Linked DNA regions of Homo sapiens: region 2 is linked to region 1. Evidence: fine-mapped expression QTL. A gene starts in region 1. The other region holds a variant in brackets. All regions are shown on one strand. Distances are from middle to middle.

Region 1 (4,528 bases):
GCGACTGTTGTCTTAGACAGAAATGGCACAGGAAAGTAGGTTTGTAAGTCAGAGATCACATGATATCAGAAAATGAAAGGAGATTTCATTTTAGCCCCCAGGAGGGACCCACACACAGGACAAACATCCACTCTTTTGTAGCCCATGCCGCTCTGCACAGGAGGGTCACCCCCTAAGCCTCACCCAGAAGCTCCTCCAAACCTCTTGTCACTGTAGTGGAGAGGAGAGGACCTTTCCTCCCGCTTCCAGCTGCCCTTCATCTCACTCCCAGACAGATAAGAGGGCTGAGGACTGGTAGGAGTGAATGACAAGGACAGAGGGCTGAGGGCTGTGGATGCCACCTTCCTGGGCTGTCACCCCTGGCCTGGTGTTGGTATCTGAAAAGGGGGGAGCGGGCTGGCAGTGACAGACAAAGTGGTGAGTGCAGGGGAATAGGCCCAATCTGCGACCCACGGTCCTCCCTCTCCTCCCCTCTACACCTGTCCTCCTGCTTCTCTTTCTCTGTAGAGTGAAACCCAATTCCAAACGTTAACAGAGTCTGGAAAAGGCATCCAAGTAAAAAAGTGCAAAAGTTGAAAATAGCCTTCCACGTTATAAGGGAGGTTCCACTCCCAGAAAGATAATGACGACTATAAAATTCCAAATGGCACTCTGCCCACTAGCCACATTCTTCAATAACACGGTCTTAGCAGTTTCACGTGTTATTTACAGGTGAAGAGGCAGTAGATCTTTTTTCCCACTGAGGTCTCATTGAGGATATAGATAGGCTGCTTCGGATACTACTGGTAATTTTAATTGTTTCAGTTTCATAAAATGTATGAGACTACACTTCTTATCACAAATATCGTTACTTCACTTCTTTCACTTAGAGAGAGAGGAAGAGGGGTGGAATAAAAGAACAAAGGCAGTGCAATAAAATACTCAAAATAGCTGTAAGACAAATATTGCTCAACAAAGTTGGTGGCAGCACAGAAACAGACCCACTGGCTGGTAGGCAGCAGCACTATGAGAGGGTTTGATGTATTCGCTCATTCACAAAGCCTGCCTTTGTCATGTAATAGGCACTTAGGGGAATCCAGAGCTTGTCTGGAATAGGGGGATGCGTCCTGCAAACAGAAGCAGTTCCAGACCCTGCAGGTTGGCTAGCCAAAGCCCAGCTAACTCCCATCAGGTGTACCTTCCTGAGCTGCACAGACGGAAAACCACAAACTGCTTTTTCAGACTTCCTTGCAGGTCTGCCAAGCAGAGCACCTGTGTGAAACTCAGAAGCTGCAGCTGGGAAGGTGGGCATGGGCCGTATGGGGTAGAGCTTGCTGGGAGATCTGATTGGGGTAGCTCTGAGGGAGGCTCCACTGCCCGGTTCCTAATGTCACAGGTGTGGGCAAGCACCTGCTGCGGAAACTCAGCACTCTTAACTACATTGTTCCTGGCTATTAGCCACCCACCTGTTTCCCTATCCGTCCCAGAAATTCTGTACATTCTTTAATTCTTCCCTGTAATCAGTGCTTTTCTGCTTTGTTGTCTGTACTTGGAACACTTACCAAGAAATTAACCAAATCAGAGATACTCAGCATGGGCTTGAGGAAGATGTGTTTTGACATCATTTTCTCCAAATCTCTCGAAGTTTGTGACAAGTCTTTTTCTGCTACACTTTCTTCTAGTTCCTGTTCACAGTTTTGACCTCTTCCTCCATTTTCTCTGATGTTTAGCTGATTTTTACCGTCTGTTCCATCATCCAGTTCTCCAAGGTGTTCATTTTGACATCCAGCCTGACACTTCCTTCGCACTTTTGTGGCACCTCTAGCACTGCCACTTGCTTGGTTTTTGACAGCTGGTACCATCAACAAACAAATGCCTTGGGGAAGAAAACATGTCAATTCGCATGGCTTGAAATGCAGGAACAAAACAGAAGTGCACACCGACCCGGAGCTTACAGTACAGCGTGCCATGAGAGCTTGCATTGGCCAAAAGCATGCAAGAATACTCACTGTAGCTGATGCATGTTGTAAAAGTCTGCATGAACTCTGTTCTTCAGTGCTGCAATTTCTGATGTGAACAGCACCATCAGCTTTACACAGAACAATACTCAGTGTGGCATATGTACTTTTATTATGCAAAAGAGCGGATGGCAGGACGTTTGAATATAGGGAAGTTGAAAGTCACCTGGAAATGCTTCATGCAAATAGCACTAACTAGGAAGAGAAGGCACCTGTGCTAAGAAAGGGATGTGAAGCGGCCAGTCCAGGATTTGCAGCCTTGTTTGTGTGTTACTATAGAATCGCCTGGGCTCTTTTAAAAAATATTTATTTATTTATTTATTTATTTATTTATTTAGAGACGGAGTCTCTCTCTTGCCCAGGCTGGAGCGCAGTGGCGCAATCTCAGCTCACTGCAACCTCTGCCTCCAGGGTTCAAGCGATTCTCCTGCCTCAGCCTCCTGAGTAGCTGGGATTACAGGCGAGTGCCACCATGCCTGGCTAATTTTTTTTTTATCTTTAGTAGAGGTGGGGCTTCACTATGTTGGCCAGGCTGGTCTTGAACTCCTGACCTCAGGTGATCCGCCTGCCTCAGCCTCTCAAAGTGCTGGGATTACAGGTGTGAGCCACTGCACACGGCCTGGGCTCTTTTTAAAAATGCCAATATATGGCAAAAAACAAAACAAAAATAAAGAGGAAAGTGGGGAGAAGGCCAGGGAAGTTTGGAGGACCCCAGGATTCCACTCACCTTACTGACCCTAGTGGTGTATTGGCTTTTTTAAGACAAGGTCTCACTGTTTCCTAGGCTGAAGTGCAGCAGCATGAACATGGGTCACTGCAGCCTTAACCTCCTGGGTTCAAATGATCATCCCACCTCAGCCTCCCGAGTAGCTGAGACCACAGGCACGTGCTACCACACCTGGCTAATTTTTAAAATTTTTTTGTAGAGATAGAGTCTCACTATGTTACCCAGGCTAGTCTCGAACGCCTGGGCTCAAGTGATTCTACTGCCTTGGCCTCCCAAAGTGCTGGGATTACAGGAGCGAGCCACCATACCAGGCCACTTTCCCCTTTATAAAAATTTAAAAAGAAAAGAAAATCCCAGTATTCAGGCACAAACCCAAACCAGTTTAATCAGAATCTTTGTGGGTGGAGTGCTGGTGGGTTGGTTTTTTGTTTTTTTTTTTTAGCGTGGATGAATCTAATGAGCCTTCAACATTGAGAACCAGTGGATAGGGCTTCTACTCTGCCCTATTTATCCTTGTGAATGTGGCTTTTCTTCCTCTTTCCACAGGCATTGTCTGAGGCTTTCAAATAAGTAACCTCGTGGGTTTTTGTAGTAAGTAGCATTTGTGGCTGGAGGCCAGCTTCCCATTCAAAGACTGTCTCTTCTTAAAGAATTCTTGATTCTTGGCCAGGCTTGGTGGCTCACACCTGTAATCCCAGCACTTTGGGAGGCCAAGGCGGGCGTATCATGAGGTCCGGAGTTTGAGACCAGCCTGGCCAATATGGTGAAACCTCTTCTCTACTAAAAATAGAAAAATTAGCTGGGTGTGGTGGCACACGCCTGTTGTTACAGCTACTCAGGAGGCTGAGGCAAAAGAATTGCTTGAACCTGGGAGGCGGAGGTTGCAGTGAGCCGAGATCGAGCCACTCCACTCCATCCTGGGCAACAGAGCGAGACTCCATCTCAAAAAAAAAAAAAAAAAAAAAAAGAATTCTTGATTCTTAATGGAACCACAGGTAGTCAGCAAGATGAAAAATGGAAATGATGATTCTGTAATTGTCCATGTTACAACAACCAGAGTATGAATTGCATTGCAGTTTTTTTGTTTGTTTTTTGTTTTTGAGACATTGTATTGCAAGACACCAATAGAGGCACTTACAGAGTCTCGCTCTATTGCCCAGGCTGGAGTGCAATGGTGTGATCTCAGCTCACTGCAACCTCTGCCTCCTGGGTTCAAGCAATTCTCCTGTCTCAGCCTCCTGAGTAGCTGGGACTACAGGCGTGCGCCACCACACCTGGCTAATTTTTGTAGAGATGGGGTTTCACCATGTTGGTCAGGCTGGCCTTGAACTCCTGACCTCAGGTGATCCACCTGCCTCAGCCTCCCAAAGTGCTGGGATTACAGGCGTGAGCCACTATGCCTGGCCTGCATTTCAGTTTTATCTGGGGAAAGATCATCTCCTTGGCTGACAGAGTGTAAACAAGAGTAGATTTCCCCTCAAATGAGGTCATCCATGGCCACTGTAGTTAGAGGCTTTTGGGAAATTACCTAGAATGGAGTTTTCCAGAAAAGACCATGAACCAGGGTGCCCACAGATGCTGAGGGTACTAGGTCTGTGATTCTCAAACACTCACATGCCCAAGTATTTGCCAGGAGCTTGTTAAATGCAGAATTCCTAGGCTGCCCACAGTGCTGCTGACCCGGCAGTTGTCAGCCTTGGCTGAAACCCCTGGGCAGCTTTGAAAATACTGGTGCTTGGGTCCCACCCCCAGAAATTTTGGTTATTTGCTTTCAGGTATGGCCTGGGCATGGGATTTTTCAGGG
Region 2 (4,000 bases), 33 kb after region 1:
ACCTCCGATTGCAGCCTTGTAAGAGACTCTGAAGCAGAGGACCTAACTAAACTGTCCCAAGATTCCTGACCCCAGAGAGACTGTAGGATAGTAAATATGTGAGATTTTAAGCTGTTTAAGCTGTTAAATGTGTAGTAGTTTGTTATGCAGCAATGTATCAGCCAACAAAGTTAATAAGATGCAAAAATCAATGCATTAGAACACTTAGGGTGCTCTCACAGGACGGCCAGCATACACAGCCTGCAACACAGCATTTCCCAAACTTGTCCATAGAACCTGAGTTGCTTTTAGCATATTTAGAGAATACCAGAGTACATGTCTGCATTTAAGCAGAAAAAATTAATCTTTAGCTGAATTAAATTGTTGCAAAACTGTGACCAGAAGTTTGATTCTTATCACAGCTATATTTACTTTTTAAAAAGTAGAAACAGACTAGCAACTTATATTGGCTAGTTTTCGGAGTATAGATGAATAACAACTTACATTTGTTATTATTTCCATTACAAAGCAACTTTCTTACATATTTTAGTCTTGGGGACTACCTTTGGCATTTCATTTCCATTTTCTGCCCTAGTCAGAAGCAGCAAGGGGCCCTGTGCCAAAGTCTCTCTGTTCTGTATCCACCACACAACAATCCTCAGTTGTTGACAGACTGAGCTGCTCTAAGTTTCTCTTTCCATGAGGACCGGGAAGTTCAGAAAAGAGTTGGGTTAGAAGACCTCCACTTTCCTCATGGGAAACAATTTCCCCCGGCAAATACCTCACATCCTTCAGGGATTAGCTGTTTCCTCAATTGGTACAAGCACAGCCTTTCCCACAGCCTTGAATGCATTCTCTTCTAAAGAGCACAACACTATTTGTTTAATTCTGTCTATCTGTCCTGCCCAATCTTTTCATACAAGCAATAACCCAGTAACATCTCACCCAGAACAGGCCCTGTCCTTAACCCAGAACTTCTACACCTAACAGCCACTGGCACACCGACCTGTTTTCAGACTGTCTACAATATCTAGTCTGCAAAATCCAATGGGAACAGAGGGGTCCAGAAGCAAAAGAGCAACTTCTGCCCCCCAAAAATCAAGTTCCTAAGAAAAATGTGATGTGTTTTGACAGTTTCTGATAAAGTTAAACATACACTTACCATAGGACTCACCAATTCCATTCCTAGATTTTTTTTTTTTTTTTTGGAGACAGAGTCTCACTTTGTTGCCCAGGCTGGAGTGCAGTGGCAGATCTCGGCTCACTGCAGCCTCCGCCTCTGGGTTCAAAAGATTCTCCTGCCTCAGCTTCCCGAATAGTTGGGACTACAGGTGTGCACCACCACGCCCGGCTAATTTATTTATTTATTTATTTATTTATTTATTTTTCTGAGACGGAGTCTCGCTCTGTCTCCCAGGCTGGAGGGCAGTGGCGTGATCTCGGCTCACTGAAAGCTCCGCCTCCGAGGTTCACACCATTGTCCTGCCTCAGTCTCCCGAGTAGCTGGGACTACAGGCGCCCGCCACCACACCTGGCTAATTTTGTTTTTGTATTTTTAGTAGAGACGGGGTTTCACCATGTTAGCCAGGATGATCTCAATCTCCTGACCTCGTGATCTGCCCCCCTCAGCCTCCCAAAGTGCTAGGATTACAGGCGTGAGCCACTGCGCCTG[C/GC]CAATTTGTATTTTTAATGCAGACAGGGTTTCACCATGTTGGCCAGGCTGGTCTCAAACTCCTGACCTCAAGTGATCTGCCCACCTTGGCCTCCCAAAGTGCTAGGATTACAGGCATGAGCCACCACGCCCGGCCCACTCCTAGATATTTACCCAAGAAATATAAAAATATATGCCTGCAAAAAGGAACTGTATGCATAACAGCGTTATTCATAATAGTCCAAAACCCAAATGTCCATCAACAGATGAAGGGATACAAAGATTATGAAAACTCCATACAACGGAATACCACTTGGCAATAAAAAGGAGCCAAGTGATATACGCAACAACATGGATAATCTCAGCAACACTGTGCTGAGCAAAACAAGACTGACAAAGGAGAGTGCATACTGAATGATTCTGTTGATATGAAACTCTAGAAAAAGCCAAACTAATTTATAGTGATAAAAAGCAGGTCAGCTGCCTGAGGCCAGGGGTGGAGAATGGGGATTGCTGAGAAGAGTCATAGGTGATGGAAAAGTTCAGTATCTTGATTGTGGTGGTGGTCACATGAGTTATCCATTTGTCAGAACTCATTGAACTGGACCTTTAAAGTGGGTGCATTTATTGTATATAAATCCTACCTTGAAATTGTTTAAAAACTTATATAAAAAAGTATGGTAATAACTGTTAGAGATTTTCCAACTAAAAAATACGTACATTCAATGGGAGGGCTGAACTTTTTTTTAGATTATACAGCTCATTTCTCAGATAACAATCTCTGGGAAGGGCTCTCCTGGTGGCAGTGAGCTGAAGCACCATAGAAAGCATCCTCCTTTGCTTTCATCCTCTGCTTGCCACAGACCAAGAGCAGGAGCAGTGCCCTCCTGCTGTCACCAAGGGCAAGGAGATGAGGCTGCCAGAATAAAGCAACATGTTTCTCTGTCCTCTACTTTCCCTCTCTCCTTTGGCTTTCAGACACAGATGCTGCGGTAAACTCTGGTTCTTACTCCTGAGCTCTCTTCTAATCCGGGATCAGCTGCCTCTCTGGCAAACAGTTTTGCTTCCCAGAGCTCTGTCTTCAGGCATTTTTCCCAACTCCTCATGTTCACACAGTAGCTTCATGGGCTTTTGAAATCAGAGACAGTGAGCTGGAAGGGATTTTAGAGGTGATCCAGTTCTATCCCCTCATTTAGCACATAGAGACACCAATGCCCAGTCACTGAGCATCTCCCATTTCTGCTCCATCTAGGCCAGCACTGTCCAACTGAAATGCCTGCATTTGTGCTGCCATGTTGGACTATAGAGCACTTGAAATGTAGCTAGTGCCACCAAGGAACTGATTTTTAAGTTTTATTTACATTTGAAGTAATTTTAAATAGCTACATGTGGCTAGTGTCTATTGTATTGGACAGCCCAGATGTAGAGTACTGAAATCCAGAGTCCAGAAGTCAGGAGGACCAAATGGTCATCCTGTGTTCGCCTCTGCACATCACCCACTTTCACTGGGTGTTAGGATGCTTCTAAGCACTGAGCTCCTCATCTTATTCAAGTTTGCAAATATTTCCTTTTTCTGTTGTTTGATCCTGAGAGATCTACTTGAATTACATATGTATTAGGCCAAAGTTTCTCAAATATCAGTAGACCATTAAATCAGTGTATTGGCTTTAACCAGTATTTTATAAAAGATGAAATACATTAGACAAAAATATCAGTATATATCACACTTAAAATATTGTTTGGTGGAACCTGTGTTTTGGTTTGAGTATGTGGGAGTTGGGGGGCGGGTATAGTGTGGATGCCATAATGTAAAATGTACTTTTTATGGTAGGTCAAAATTAAAAACGTGTGAAACCTCTAAGATACACTACTAAATCTAGAGGCCCAAGTCAGTCCAAGCCAGGAGATAATGAATGAACAAGCTTTTCCAGCGCTATAAGACTCTTTGAATACATTACTTAAAACAAACAGAAAAACTGGTATGAAATGAGGTTGAACTGGCCAATGCAGAACCACTGTGGGAGGTGCTGTGCAGACCCATGCAGCTCACACAGTGAAAAACTTCAAAAACGTTCTGTAACATCTGATACTGTTTGTTCTTCTGATCCTATTGTCAAGGGTGGTATGCATTTCTCTGTTCTATATGAAAAGAATGTAAAACAATTTACTTTTGCTTGGGCATATTTTGTTCCAGAATTATTTCCTTTTATTTAAGTTCAAAAATTCTTTACCAAATCTATTAAAATTTCAAAGACTCTTCAGAACAGGATATGGCATGGTATGTACACCTGATAAATATTTATTATCGCTAGTATTTATTGTAACAGAGCCAGTTAACAGGGATGTGACCCTTCAGATCTTGGTACCCCCT

Direction of the effects. Alleles are on the strand shown, and positions count from the first base shown. SD is a standard deviation of normalised expression in the study named.
For the expression in skeletal muscle of the gene that starts at base 2,074 in region 1, allele GC in region 2 goes with a lower level than allele C (small effect, 0.21 SD a copy in GTEx).

What was found. PIP is the estimated chance that this variant, and not a neighbour inherited with it, causes the effect.
Region 2: its variant is fine-mapped to the expression of LINC02576 in skeletal muscle (GTEx, PIP 0.97).

Annotation. Positions count from the first base shown.
Region 1 is chr2:65,028,273-65,032,800 of GRCh38, reverse strand. It overlaps LINC02576 (long intergenic non-protein coding RNA 2576), which reads right to left and starts at 2,074. Exons shown (of 3, transcript NR_183398.1): 1 at 1,989-2,074; 2 at 1,542-1,855. RefSeq lists an enhancer at 861-1,724.
Region 2 is chr2:64,995,606-64,999,605 of GRCh38, reverse strand. The region is part of intron 1 of SLC1A4 (solute carrier family 1 member 4); the gene reads right to left. Among named protein-coding and RNA genes, the nearest start is that of SLC1A4, 8.2 kb to the right of the region's middle. The variant C/GC (reference allele first, on the strand shown) is at 1,652.